Linked DNA regions of Homo sapiens. The protein of the gene in region 1 binds, or shares a complex with, the protein of each later gene. Each region holds a gene or a part of one and is shown on either strand. Other genes may lie near its edges.

What was found. The genes of interacting proteins can lie anywhere in the genome.
Region 2: the proteins of SHC1 (region 1) and ITGB3 are in contact, whole or in part, in an NMR structure (PDB 2L1C), measured with the Homo sapiens proteins. Residues at the interface, in NP_892113.4 of Homo sapiens: Ser175, Met176, Arg177, Asn182, Arg184, Thr185, Gln186, Thr188, Arg189, Glu190, Ser193, Leu194, Arg208, Arg209, Lys210, Arg214, Pro215, Leu216, Ser217, Ile219, Met257, Gln258, Ser259, Ile260, Ser261, Phe262, Ala263, Ser264, Gly265, Pro268; in NP_000203.2 of Homo sapiens: Trp765, Asp766, Thr767, Ala768, Pro771, Leu772, Tyr773, Lys774, Glu775, Ala776, Thr777, Ser778, Thr779, Phe780, Thr781, Asn782, Ile783, Thr784, Tyr785, Arg786, Gly787, Thr788.

The regions. Positions count from the first base shown.
Region 1 is NC_000001.11:154,967,748-154,975,433, forward strand, and holds the start of SHC1 (SHC-transforming protein 1), read right to left. Parts: upstream 3,001-7,686; 5' UTR 2,780-3,000; coding exon 2,285-2,779; intron 1,702-2,284; coding exon 1,631-1,701; intron 1,088-1,630; coding exon 1,024-1,087; intron 868-1,023; coding exon 748-867; intron 511-747; coding exon 457-510; intron 285-456; coding exon 233-284; intron 51-232; coding exon 1-50. Other genes in the region: CKS1B (cyclin-dependent kinases regulatory subunit 1), read left to right, coding at 6,999-7,057. UniProt on the Homo sapiens protein: Signaling adapter that couples activated growth factor receptors to signaling pathways. Participates in a signaling cascade initiated by activated KIT and KITLG/SCF.
Region 2 is NC_000017.11:47,284,827-47,291,855, reverse strand, and holds part of ITGB3 (integrin beta-3 precursor), read right to left. Parts: intron 5,597-7,029; coding exon 5,434-5,596; intron 4,787-5,433; coding exon 4,625-4,786; intron 2,176-4,624; coding exon 2,080-2,175; intron 1,672-2,079; coding exon 1,582-1,671; intron 903-1,581; coding exon 768-902; intron 1-767. UniProt on the Homo sapiens protein: Integrin alpha-V/beta-3 (ITGAV:ITGB3) is a receptor for cytotactin, fibronectin, laminin, matrix metalloproteinase-2, osteopontin, osteomodulin, prothrombin, thrombospondin, vitronectin and von Willebrand factor.

The DNA.
Region 1 (7,686 bases):
GCTGATGACATCCTGGGCAAGCCCTTCGGGACACTCCAGAATGTGGCAGGCTGAGGGCACAGCAGAGGCTGTCAGTGAGCTGAGCCCACTGGGAGGAGGCACAGACAGGGGCCCTCATCTTCCTCTGCAGGAACCCCCACTGAGATCTACTTAGAGTGGGTACAGATGACCAAAGGTCCTACTCACCTCCTCAAACAGCCAGACCCACCCAGTGCTCCCCACCATGCCTCACCTCTCTGATTCACAGGGTCTTTGGCAACATAGGCGACATACTCGGCTGTGTCCTGGGGAGGAAGGTCAAAAAATTTTACAGTTCTACTTTACTCCTGACCCCTAAAACCCAGTCCTTTTCAGATATCCCCACAATCCTAGCACCCCCACTTCTCTAATCAATGTCTTCCCAATCCCTAGCCCCTTGCTCTTCTCCCACCGCCTTTGCTCTGTTCCCCAACTCACCGGATCCCCGCCGGATGCAAATGAGATAGATTGCATGTGGTGGTTGGCGATGATCTGAGAATTAGGGCAGGGGATGAAGAAGGAAGGGAATGCCATGTGTCAGGCAGCCTCAGGGCCCAGAACCCTGGTGCCCCAGTCTCATTCTCTGGGTTCCTTATCCCATATCCTCATTTCCTCCTTCCCTACTGGTCTCCTGCTCTCAAGCCCTCTTCCTAGATTTTGGCCTCCTAACTAGATCTCCCCTTAGCACCCCCATCAGTGTTTCTGGTCCGTCTGCCCACCTTCACCAACCTGTTTGCAGTCTGCGGCCATGAGGTTGAGGCTGCTGGTGGAGACGGTGAGAGTGATTGGCATTCCAGCAAATTTCAGGTTACTCCTCCCCAGGATAGAGCTGAGCGGGCGGCTACAGGGCTAAGGTAGGGCCCAGGGTCTCAGAAGGTGAGGGTTCCCAGCACAGGCAAACCACACTTTTGCCTCCTGGCCCTCTCCCCACATGCCCCACACTTGCCTCCCCACTGCCCCTCCACATTTCCCAGCAGCATCCCTATCCCCAAGGACCCCAAGTACCTTTCTCCTCCTTGTCGCCCCCTTAGCACCCGGCACAGCCTCACACACCAGACTGATGGCCTCCCTGGGGAAAGAGGGGTACTCAGACCCAGCGCCTGCCTGCCTGCCTCCCACTCAACTGGGGCTGCCACAGGGCTGGGGGAGGGGAAAGCCAGGCCAGACTCCCAGGGCACTCCAGGCTCTTTGTCATGGTGGATTGAATTAAGGGCCTTTAATATTTGATGACACTGAGAGGCCACTTCCTGGCTGATTGGGTTAGGGCCTCAATGGGTATAGCCCCACCCCCTTCCAGCTACCAAATGTCCCATTCCCTTCCCAAAGGCAGCAGCAACCTTCCATCTACCCCCCTTTTCTACTCCAGCTCCACCTGCCAGCTGCTTCTGCCACCTTCCCCACAACTCCCAAGGCTGGATAGGTAAGGAGGATCCGGGCCAAAGGGGCCTCCTTTCAGTAAGAGGCGGAATCACTACCTCAGCTTTCTCTCAATCCCCTTTACTACGCAAAGATCAGCCCCCAGCAGCAGCACCCAAGTGACCCACTCCCCTCCTCTGTTTCCCATGGCCTCACTAATCCCAGGACTCCCACAATCCACTCCCTCCCCACTAACCTGGTGACCTGAGTCCGGGTGTTGAAGTCCAGGGCACGCATTGACTGGAGGACCTCCACACAACCCATGTACTAAGGGGAGGGAGAAGAGGACAGCAGGTCAGCGGCTCCCCCACCCCAGCCCCTTCACAAAGGGCCCTAGGACTTTACCCATATGGTCCCTAAGGGAAGTAAAGAGGAAGAAGTTCTGCCCACTTCCCGTGGCTACATCCCACAACCAAGGTGAAAGACAACAGGGAATGAGGAGAAAAAGAAAAGGCAGGCTAGAAGGACCTCACACACTGGGGAGAGAGTTTGGAGGGGACCGACAGGCATTGGCTGGGATGGAGTGACAACTCCAGAAAGCGGGAGGAGAATGGAGGAAAGATCAAGAAGTCATTCATTCCAACACTTATTAAGAGCTTCTGCCATGCTGGGCATTGTGCTAAGCATGCCAGGGTGGGGGTGGGGGAGTGAAAAGAAGGAAGGGGGCCCAGGCAAAGCTGGAAGGGAAGGGGCTACAGAATCGGGGAAGGGATGAGAAAGGTTTAGGAAATAGGACACTGAAACGGGGTTGTTGGGGAACAGCAGGAAAAAAGAGATTCCGGCCAAGCTGGAGTGAGCATTAGAACTGGAGGGGGTCTGCGGGGGAATGGAGAGGAGGATGTTCACTCACCCGAACCAAGTAGGAAACCCCGGGTCCCATGACTTTGTCGTTGGGATGCAGCCAGCCCCGCGTGGGCTTATTGACAAAGCTCCCGTGGCGGGTCCACTCCTCGCCCCCAAGCTGGCCCCCTTCCACCCGAGTCCTGCGCCCGCCGCCTCCACTCAGCTTGTTCATGTCCTGGAGGAGGGGTAGGGGGCCTGAGTCTGGCATGGCTGCCCCTACGATCCCCTCCCCATCATCAGCTGCCCTTCCTGGCTCCCCCTTAGACCCTGGGCGCCCCCCAGCCGGGTTGGCCAGCCTCAGGTTGCTCATCCGGGGGAAGAAGGAGCACAGGGTAGTGGGACTATCGTCCCCAGGCAGAGGAGGCAGGATGGGCCCCAGGGATGAAGCTGATGGGGAAGGCAGCTCCTCCGGGGGGGTGGACCCAGAAGCCCCTTCCTCCAGCGATGACAGAGACTCATTCCGGAGTGGATTGTACTTGGGCTTGGGGGGCAGGAGATCCATAGTTGAGGTGAAAGAGGGGCTGCTGCCCAGCCTGGCCCCCCTGCCAGTTTGGGCAAGGGGGCCAGGCAGGGGGTATCCCCAGGCCCTTAGCCTGGTTGGACCTCTGTGGCCCAGGAGTCACAGAAGTCCTGGGGAGGGAGAGGGACAAGTGGCTTCCGCTCCCCAGCTCAGACCCAGACAGTTTCAGGCCCCATCCCCGCCCAACGTGGAGCCTCTTCTCTGGCTGAGAAGAGAACAGGCTGGACCCAGCGCTTCTGGCTCCTCCCCAGGGGCGGGGAGCTAAGGGGAGAGACCAATCGTGAGGACAGTGCTGACTCACAGGCTCAGAGGGGCTGAGCCCCCACCCCGCCCCAACCTCGAACTGGAGCAGGGGGTAGGGCTATCCAAGCCCCTCTCCCCTGCCCTATACAAACAACTAGTAATCTGGGGAGAAGTAAAGTGGGGGTGGGAGGGAAGGATGGAAGAGTGGGACGGAAAGGAAGGAGATAGGAGGTCTGGGTCACTCAAAACCGGACACACGCAGGCCAAAGGGGGCAGGAAGCCAGGCAGGAGTACAGGGGAATGAGGGAGGAAACAGAGGCAGCTGGGGGTGGAAAAGGGAGGAGATCTCAGAGCTCAGCATTTCCCTTCCTGTCCTGGTTGGACACTCGAATTCCCCCACCCTCTCTATGCCCGAAAGCTGGCTGGCCCCAGCCCAGGCCACCCCCAACCGCTACCCCATACAGTAAGCCTGGGCCATTAGCATCCTCTGCTACAGCAGCTGTGGACTGGAGCTAGCGAAGTGGGGATGGGAAGTAAGTGGTCCCAATGGATGCAGAGCAGGGCCAAGAGGAAGAGCAAAGCTGGTGAAAAAAGGGGAATAAAGTTCAACCTGGATGATACATCAGGAAGCTACCAGGCAAGAAGGGAACAAGAGGACATGCTGGTCACGGCTTGTTCTCTACGTATGCCATCTACCACACCAAGACCGATGGCTCATAGCCAAGCACTGTCCTGTCTCCCCTTTCCACAGGGCTTGTTAACACAGCACACTGTCAAGGGTGAGAATGAGGCAATCAGGTCCCCACTCCCACTCCAAACCACCCCAATTCACATCCCTCCTCTTACAGGGCCCTAAGCCCCACCAAAGAGCACAGCATCCTTCACACCAGGGAAGGAGCCTGGCTGGAGGAGGTGGAAGAAACAGTTCTCCAAGAGAAGTAGAAACTACAGGCCAGGAAGGGACAGAGAGATCAGAAGACACATCTGCGTCAATAAGGACAGGAGAAAAATAAGTACAGGAGAAAGGGGTGTCAGGAGAAGATGGGTTGAAGCTGGACACAGGGAACAGTCCCAAACCCATTCCTGCCACCCACGGCTTCCTGCCACTGCTCTTCCGGAGAATGCCACAGGCAAAGCTGGAAAGTGACCAAAAAAAAAAAAACAAAGATACGTATTCCTACCGGGCGCGGTGGCTCACACCTGTGATACCAGCACTTTGGGAGGCTGAGGCGGGTGGATCACCTGAAGTCAGGAGTTCGAGACCAGCCTGGTCAACATGGTGAAACCCTGTCTCTACTAAAAATACAAAAATTAGCTGGGCGTGGTGGCGGGCACCTGTAATCCCAGCTCAGGAGGCTGAGGCAGGAGAATCGCTCGAACCCAGGAGGCGGAGGTTGCAGTGAGCCGAGATCGAGCCATTGCACTCCAGCCTAGGTGACAAGAGCAAAACTCCGTCTCAAAAAAAAAAAAATACGTATTCCCCCCAGCTCACCTTGGAATTACCCTTAGATTTACTTCAGAGAATTAAAATATAGATAGATAATTATCCTGATTAACAACATTAACACTTGAAGTGTGTTAGATGCTGTGCTTAACTCTTACATCTCCCCTTAGTGCTCATTCCAGAAGAGCTTTGTCACTCTGCCAGCCAATCCTGAGAAGGAATTTTATCACTTCATTTCCAGCCAGCTCTCGGGCATAGAGAGAATGAGGAAAGGATTCCACCATAGCCTCACACCCCCAAAACACACAAACACACACTAGGATGTCCCTCATCTGTAGAGATGATGTTCTGTGGGAGCCTACAGTATCCAGAGCCAGGGAAGGACCAACGGGTGTGGGCGTTCGGAAGAAAAGAAAGACGTATGACTCTTGAAATTTACATAGGGAGAAAGGAGATTGCCTACTGGAAGTCCAGGTGATTGGGTGTAGGGGAAAAGCTGTGTGTGGCTTCGCAGCCCAACTGGGAGGAGGGGACAGGGGCGGGAAGTGGCAGGAAATGGCGAAAGCCTCAGGAATGTTTCCAGCAGGGAAGGCTGGGCAAACGGGGCCAGGAGGAATGCCCAGACAAGAACTCTGGTTAGGGGGAGGGGAAGAGACAGAGAAGTAGCGACTGAACTGTCCCTTAAAAAAAAAAAAATCAAACAACAAAAAGAGCACTATTATCTACCCCCACTCCAAACTACCGTTCTTCTGGTAGTAGAAAACTTTTGCTCATGTCACACCCACATGCCACACACCAACAAATCCATGGTCTTATCCACTTATGTCTAGGAAGGCCTAGAGCTACTTCTGGGATGAGGTTGGTCCTGGGAAGGGAAAGCCAGGAAGTGAGGCTGGGAGTCTGAGGGCAAGTCTCTCTCTCCCTCTCGTGCCAAACCCCACGTTCAGCCCTTTCAAATAGTTCTACCCTTGGAGGAGGTTAAGAAAGAGGAAAACGGGGACGGGCGCAGTGGCTAACGCCTGTAATCCTAACACTTAAGGAGGCTGATAAGGGTGGAGCACCTGAGGTCAGGAGTTCGAGGCTAGCCTAGCCAACATGGGGAAACCCCGTCTCTACTAAAAATACAAAAATTAGCCGGGCGTGGTGGTGGGCGCCTGTAATCCCAGCTACTCAGGAGGCTGAGGCAGGAGAATCACTTGAACTCAGGAGGCGGAGGTTGCAGTGAGCCGAGATCGCACCATTGCACTCCAGCCTGGACGATAAGAGCGAAACTCCGTCTTAAAAAAAAAAAAAAAAAAAAAAAAGATAGAAAGGAAAACGGAAAACGGCTGCCTTTAATCTCACTCCTTACAGCCAGAGATGGGAACTTTGACTTCCCACCTGGGGGAGCACGAGAGTGCTCGGAAAACTGATCCCAAGGCCCAAAAAGAGAAAGGACAGGAAAATATAAGCAGGTGGAGTTTCAGGGATTGACGACAAGGCTTTTCAGCTGATGACCCAGGTCCCACAAAGATAAAGCTCCTAAGGGGGCGTGGTCCCCTAAGGACGCGAACTTCAGACTTCTGGGCGGGGAGGCTTTCTGGACAGTCAGACGTGGATTACGGAGGGGGCGTGGCTTCGGAGGGGCGGAGCTTCAACAAATTCGAATCGTTCTTTGAAGAGCAGGGTTTTGCCCTTTTGGGAGATAGGCCTTTTGACAGGAGTTAGCCGAGGATCGTTGCTAGGAGGCGGAGTTTCGGAGAATGGAAGGAGTAACGAAGGGTTTCTCGTAGTAGGGCTTGGAACGTGTCGGGGGGTGGGGACTTCCAGAAAAACTGGGCGACAGGGTGGGGTCGGAGACAAAAAATAAAAATCAAGTCGGGGTTCGGGGGAGCCCCCTGAAGTTGGGAGGTGGGACTTCCGGGGAGAGGGGTCTCAGGGGCGGGACTTATAAATGAAGACCGGAAGTGGGGTCCCGGGAGAGGGGTTCCGGGGTGAAAGAGTGAGTCACCTAAGGAGAAAAAAGTCAAGACTCACCAGGGCCTCATGGAGTCTCCGCACCGCACCGCGGGCCGATTTGGTGCCGGATCACGCCACTGCCAGCTTAGGTTACCGCTCCAACTTTCTCCCCGGGCCCTGCCTCCCTGGAGAAACTTTATTACACTCACTTCCGGCCTCACTAACCCCTGACCCTCTACCTCAGGGTCCCTCCTTCACGCTTCCCACTTTCCCGAGTTAGCCAATGGCAGCGCGAGATCGCGCACAAAGGCAGTGGTGGCCAATAAGACGCCTACTTTTGACCCACGCTCGTTCTTGAGAAGCGTGAGAACTGCCCTCCAATAAGGATCCGAAGAGAAGTAAATCTAAGCCAATCGGAGGCTTGAAAGTAGAGGTGTCCCGCCTCGAGCCAAACGGACCAATAGGAAGTGCGGGCGGCGTGTTTGAAAGCGAGGCCAAAGTGGGTGGGAGCGCGTGCTGTTGGGAGTTGCTTGGAGGTTGGCGGCGCGGGGCTGAAGGCTAGCAAACCGAGCGATCATGTCGCACAAACAAATTTACTATTCGGACAAATACGACGACGAGGAGTTTGAGTATCGGTTAGTGCTGGCGCGGGAGCAATAGCGAGGGTCGTGAGCTTTGGCCGCTGAGGGCACAAGGAATTAGTAACAGGAACTGAGGCGATAGAATTGGCGCATGCGTACGAGGTGCGAACGGGCAATGGTGTGATATTGTGGAAGGCGTAAGGCGCATGCGCGGAGGTGGGAGGCGCTCGTAAAACAAAGTGGTTGCGAATTTGGAGTCGCCTCTCAGTAGAGAGGAGAGAGGGGTGGGCGTGGTTAGGGTACTGACCACCCTCACCCATGAGGCTTTCTGGATCATTCTCTGAACTTTATCGGGCAAACTTAACTTGCCTTGTAGAGACTGTTTCACAGTAATCTTGTCGAATCCAGTGGGAGAACGTAGCAAAAGCGGAGCTGGAAGTTTCCTGGCGTCCCTAACAGGAGAGTAGCGCTGAGAGAGTTGAATATTGCTTATTAACTCGTGAAAAAGACAAGGGGCGTGGTTGTCTGGCTTGTGTAAGGAAGGGGATCGCTTGGGACTGCAATGGAATAAAACTGGCTAGGAGCATTGAGAAAATACTTAATATGGGTCTAATAGATGCCCTTTAAATATCAAAGGGAACAGTTACGGAATACTTAACAGGTTTCAGGTGTTCTGCTAAAGT
Region 2 (7,029 bases), on another chromosome or scaffold:
ACCAGCTCAAACTGAACAGAACCTGTGATCATATAAACACCCTGCTTTGGCCTGATTATAATTATCAGCAAGATGCACAAAGCACTATTTTGCACCACACAATCCCACATGGTGGTCAATCATAAGCTCAGGATCTACTTCAGTTCCCACACATTTCATAGCTTATGCAATAAAGCATGTTTCAGGACAATATTTCTAACATGGGATGTTTGCACAAGTGCCTGAGAGACAGATAGGTCAATAGAAAGGATCAGCGTATCCAAAGATCTATTTTCTTCCCCTCCTTCCTCCCCTCCCACCAACCCCTCTCCCCTTAGGCAGAAGCGGAGGAGAAACGACCAATAAGGAAAGTCGTGGAGAGACTGGAGTGTTTTACATTTTAGATTTTACTTTCTTGTGTCGTTTTACAAAAGAAAGGTATTAATTACCTTGGAAAGGCTGGCGACTGGTGAGGGACTGAAGGTAAAGAAATATTTTCCTTTGCAATCAACTGTGCATACACAAACAAAGGTAACCAAATTGTAAGTTTTTCAAATTCCTGAGAGTGAAGTTCACGTAACAGAAATGGCTTACGCAACAGAAGCCTCAGAGGAAAAGATTGGTGGATCCATTACATCTAACTTAGAATGACTTTCAGGAAACGTATTTTTCTTGCCCATATTTTTTTTCTGGTGGAAGGGGGCCATTTTTAGTCACTACAAAAGGAAGAAAGGGGGTTGGGTGCCCACAGATGCTCCAGGACAAAGGCCCTGCCCAGCCCACCTCACCGTGTCTCCAATCTTGAGTCCCATACAAGACTTGAGGCCAGGGATGACCTCATTGTTGAGGCAGGTGGCATTGAAGGATAGAGACAACTCTTCAGGGAGGTCACGCACTTCCAGCTCTACTTTAGAACGGATTTTCTGAGCAGAAAGGGGCACAAGAAGACAAGAAATTGAACTGAAAGGAAACGGGAAATGGCAAGAGCCAGTTCCATCCCAAGCCAAATCTGGCAAGTAGCTCTGGACTCACCCCAGCAGTGCCAGAGGCCAAGGTTTGACCTGGAAGCTGCCGGAGCACCCCTAGGACTCTGTTTCCTGCGCAGGAACCTGCTCCCTCTTTCCATCTCCACTTGCGTCTAGGTGAGTCTGGGTAAAATGTACCAGCTACACCCTCCTGCAGGCCTCACAGATGTTGCAAAAGGGGAGTGCCAATACTGGTCACCTTGGAAAGTGGCATTTTCTACCTAATGTTTCATCAACCTCACCTTCCCCATGTCTCAGCTCTCTCTTTTCCCTGTTATTGGAGCCCAGTTTTCCCTCACTCTGCCCCCACAATTCCAGGGCTCTGCTCCTTCTCCATCTAATCACCATCCCCATCCCCATCTTCTTTCCTTCTTTCTCTCTTCCTTCCTTCCTTCCTTCCTTCTCAGAAGGCTGCATCCCTTCTAGAGCGGGCCATTGCCTGGGCTCTGGGAGCACACGGAGAAGGCAGTAAGACCGTGTGGTAGACTGGCAACTGGGACTCACAAATCTGAGCCCTGCTGTGTAAGCCAAATGAGGTGGACTCTCCGCGGGACTATTCCCAGCACAAGACACTTACCCCATAAGCATCAACAATGAGCTGGAGGACATTGCTGGAATCCATGGACAGAACCCCAACTGTGGTCCCTGGGATGAGCTCACTATAGTTCTAGAAAGGAAAACAAAGATGTCCAGAGCTTACCAAAGGAAGCTGGTGGTCTCCAAAAGCCCTCCCCAAATCCCACTGAGAGTCCTGAGATGAAGATTGGAGGAAGGTACGGGATATTTCAATTGTCACTGCCAGGAATATATCTAGCAGTTTTTCAGCCCTGAGCAAAAGTAGAGGAAACCTCTCACACCCCTCACCACCTCCCCTCCACCACCACAAACACCAACACATACCTAGTAAGTTCAAGATTGCAGGAAAAAGGCCCAGAGTGCAATCTTTAGCTCCTGGGGAGTGGATTAGGGGAGACTCTTTCCTGATTGGGGACTGTATCCAATGCTAGCACAGGCTGGCTACCTGGGGCACCCACCATCACAGGGCCCACTCCAGGAAGCCCGAAGGCACAGTCACCTGATAGAGATTGACTACATTTTCAGTCACTGCAAAGATCAAATTGATGTTTTTCTGGGATAGCTTCTCAGTCATCAGCCCCAAAGAGGGATAATCCTAGGAAAATGAAGGATGTAGAGGTTAATGACGTCTCATGTACATCTCTAGGGTCTAAAGCTTAGAACTTATCTTGCTTGGGCTGTGGCTCAGAGTGTGGTGGTGCTTAAACCATTTCACTTCATGCTGAAAGTGAGACAAGAGCCTGGGCAACATAGCAAGACCCCATCTCTACAAAAAAATTTTTTTTATTTGCCAGATGTGGTGGTAAGTGCCTATAGTCCTAGCTACTGGGGAGGCTGAGGCAGGATCACTTCAGCCCAGGAGTTGGAGGTTACAGTGAGCTATGATTGCACCACTGCACTCCAGCCTGGGCAGCAGAGCAAGACTCTGTCTCTAAAAAAAAAAGGGGGGTGACAGTGAGATAAGAAGGGTAAGTAGCACAGAAGTCTACTTGTGAACTCCAGGGATAGACGAAGAGGTACAGGCCAGTGGTGTCAAAACTAAGCACCTCTTTCTTCCTGCTTGAATTTAATGCACTAATACTATGGAGCTGCTTCCGTGCACAAGGGACTGGGTTAGGCCTCTGTTTTGGAACTACTGACAAATGCCTTGGCCTGGCCCTCGTGATCCTCCACCGTGTGGTCTCAGTCTTTCTTTCCAAATATTGCTCACCTCTCTCCCTCTTCCACTCAGCAGTGATCTGGCCCACTGTCTCCCACCTGGAGTGGCCTTCTTGTTGGTAATCCTCCTCCTTTCTTAGGGCCTAGCTTAGCCCCCACCTTCTTCAGGAGACTTCCTTGGCCATCCCAGCTCATGATGACCTTTCCTCCCTTGGATACGTATAGCCACATTGGCTGTGCCACACCCATTTGGCACTAATCATGCATCTTGTGTTATTGTAAATATATATATCCTTTCTCCTCAAGTAGACCAAAAACTCCCCAAGGATAGAACCATACATAGTCTTGTTACCTCCCTCAGCCCCTGGCCCAGTGCCTTGCATAGATTAGGGGTCAAATGTTGCTGACTCATTGTCTGGTAGTGCTTGACTTGGATATGGCTGACACCAAGGAACTCAAGGACACTGTGCGGGGGCGGTGGTGAATCGTGAACATGTCCATGGGATCCTAGACCTTGCAGGGAGCTCATTAGATCCTCAGCTCAGTCTCCTGCCTTTACACAGGTACACCTTTAAGTCACCTAGATGAGGAAGTTGCTATATTGTCCTTAGGAGACGAAGAGTTCACACCTGCCCCAGATACCTAGAGCATTACAGCACATTTCTCTTATGGCTTATAGTAATTTCTCCTGATTCAATTTAAATATTTTCCTCTTGTTTAACCTTCTATGGCCATATAAAACAACTTATAAGAAGTTTTCTCATGTATAAGCTAAATCATCCTTTAGCCTTCTTTCTTTCAAGCTAAATGACTCTGGCCCTTTAATCTTTCCTCGTAGGACCTGTTCACCATGCCTTTTATGTTCTTTCCCCTCTTTCTCTCTCTCTCTCTCTCTCTCTCTCTCTCTCTCTTTCTAAGAGAAGGGGTCTCCACTAGGAGCAATGGCTCACACCTGTAATCCCAGCACTTTGGGAGGCTTAAGAGGGCAGATTGCTTAAGCCAAGGAGTTTGAGACCAGCCTGGGCAACATAGAAAGACCCTGTTTTCAAAAATTAGCTGGGCATGGTAGTGCATGCCTGTGGTCCCAGCTATTCAGGAGACTGAGGTGGTGAAGCTTGTGAGCCAAGATTGCACTACTGCACTCCAGCTGGGCAACAAAGCAAGACTCTGTATCAAAAAAAAAAAAAAAAAAAAAAAAAAAAAAAAGCAGGGGTGGTTCTTGCTCTGTCACTCAGGCTGGAGTGTAGTGGCAAGATCACAGCTCACTGCAGCCTCAGACTACTGGGCTCAAGAGATCTTTCTGCCTCAGCCCCACAAGTAGCTGGGACCATAGGCACAAACCACAACACTCAACGAATTTTTGCATTTTCTTGTAGAGGCAGGGTCTCACTATATTTCCCAAGCTGGTTTCAAACTCCTGGACTCACGTGATCCTCCCACCTCAGCCTCCCAAAGTGCTGAGATTACAGGCATGAGCCATCATATGCCTGGCCAATCTTTCTCTTTTTTTTCCTCTGTCTTCTTCCAATAACCACAAGTTAGTATGGTATTCCAAGAAAGGGCTAATCAGAGTGGAGAGGAAGACCTGCTTTCCAGCTGGGTTGTAAAAATCCTTTGGGTCCATTCTGGATCCCATGATGCTGCTGCTATGCTGGTGACAGTGAAGGCAGTGATAACACCACAATCAGGGACATCTCTAATGGTTATATAGGTTGTATGCTGGATGACGGTGTCCAGTTGGTAAGGGATAGGGGCAAGCTGGAACCGAGCCCTGCACCCTGCCCAGAAGGAGGGGCTGCCATTTTCATATTCACACAGACTCTGCCTAGATTAGGGCAACCCTCACAATCATGAATAGAAACCATAGGTGGTGCCAGAGATCTCACCATGGTAGTGGAGGCAGAGTAATGATTGTCACTACCAACATGACACTGCCCGTCATTAGGCTGGACAATGCCTGCCAGCCTTCCGTCCAATGCTATATGAGTCTTGGCATCAGTGGTAAACACCAGCAAGTGGGATGCATCATTCCTCCAGCCAATCTTTTCCTGTTAAAAGAAAACAAAAAACAAAGGCAGAGGAGACAAAACAAATTCAGCCATGTCACTGGTAGAGAACAGAGACCCAAGGTGCTCCCTGGCTAAAGGGCTGGACAGCTTATTTTTCTTCAAAACAAGGGTCTCAGTCCCAGTCCTTGGAACCGAAGCTGAAGCTTTCCAGTTCAGGAGTTTCATTCTCTTCAGAAAACAGTCTCATAGCTGATTAGTTCAAGCAGCTGAATGAGATCTTCTTAAACTCCAAACTTAACTCTTCTAATGACAGTCACATTGCTCATCTAGAAACTGACGTGCATCCACAGAGCTGATCTGGGCTAGAAGAAATCTCATCTGAACATCTGCCTACTTTGCTGAGGTTAAGTTAACTCAGCCTTAACTCTGAAGTAACTCTGAAGATGGGAAGATGCTCTCCCCTGGGAACATCTGAGACCACTGAGGTTCAAAGAAATGTCAGCTCAGGCCAGGGAGTGGATCTAAGCCAAGGCTGAATATCAGGAGCAACTTACTACTCATAACTGCAGGAAGCCCTGCTTAGTTCTCATCTCATTTTACACCAGAAATCCCCAGAGTTCAGTCACTTCCTTTCCCATTTTGATCTATGCCAGCCACACCTGGCACTCCAAGTCCTCCAAACTCACATCACAGACTGTAGCCTGCATGATGGCATCAAAGCCACCCTCTGGGGCATCTCGGTTCCGTGACACACTCTGCTTCTTCACTTCCTCATTGAAGCGGGTCACCTGGTCAGTTAGCGTCAGCACGTGTTTGTAGCCAAACATGGGCAAGCAGGTGGTCTTCATACTGGGGAGGGATGGGAGATAATTTAAGCAGACACCTTCATGGAAAAGGCAGCATGGGAATTGGGAGGAAAGAGAGGGGACAAATATAGATAGTGGTATGCCAAGGCCAGTTCCATACAACCACAGTTACCCAGACAGTTCAGACTCCAAAATCCTCAAATTATCTGAAGCTCCCCATCAACATTACCCCCATCCAGCTAACCTAGAAGATAAGAGATTGAGCTGGAAACAAGACTCCCTGAGCTTAGATCCCAGGTGCCCTCTGTACTAGTCATGGGACCTTTGGCAAGCCTCTCAATCCAACCTATGAAAGAGGGGCCAGGATAGCACATATCCCATAAGAGTTGTGAGACTTAAGTAAGTTCATACACACAAAGCACTTAGACCAGAGCGAGGCTCGAGTTGCTATTACTATCACCTTATACTTAACACTTTCCTAAAGTAACAATAAAGCAAAAGTCCATCAGTAAGTTAAGGTCCCTGAACCATCAATAAATTGATAGATCATGCAAGACAGGAGCATTTCTGCCCCCAGTCAAAATAGTGTGTTTAATTAATAGCTGATGTCTTGCCTGGGAACCTTACAACCCAGATAGAAGGTTGAATGCCACATCATATAACTTCAAAACTTTTTCTTTTTTTTTTAGAGACAGTTGTGCTCCATTGTCCAGGTTGGAGTGCAGTGGCACAATCATGGCTCACTGCAGCCTCAACCTCCCAGGCTCAATCAATCCTCCCACCTCAGCCTCCCTGTAGTCCTGGGGACTGCAGGCATGCGCCATCACACATAGCTAATTTTTTTGTAATTTTTGTAGAGATGGGGGTCTCACTATGTTGCCTAGGCTGAACTCAAACTCCTAGGCTCAAGTGATCCTCCCATCTTGGCCTCCCAAAGTGCTGGGATTACAGAAGTGAGTCACCCCACCTGGCCGTAACTTTGAAAACTAAAAAGTAAATTCACACCTTTTCAGGCTCAGCAACCAGCATTGTAAGTTATTCTAATACATGGATTTGCACAGTCTCCACCGATTAAATAAATAAGCCATTCAGTTTTAAGCCAAAGTGTCAAACAGAGGCACAAGTTATCCATTTACAGACTATAAAAGTGTCCAACAAATGTCATTTCCACTCTTTTATATTCCTTAGCACTTCATTTCTTCTGTTTTCACCCTGCAGGATGCACGGCCTTGATGAAGACAATAATGCCAACAATGGAATCGATCCTTCTGTAATCGTAATTTCTCGGTTTCCTTATCCATAAATTTCTTTCTACTTTTGACGTCATTTCCCTCCCATTCTCTCTTGCCTTCTATTTATTTGTTACCAAGACTGAGAAGCTGATGAATTTTCTTTCTAGGTTCTCCAAACAGCCTTAGGCTCCATTGACACAACACTCCAGATCCACAAGCTAGCCCATTTGCCAAACAGGGAGAC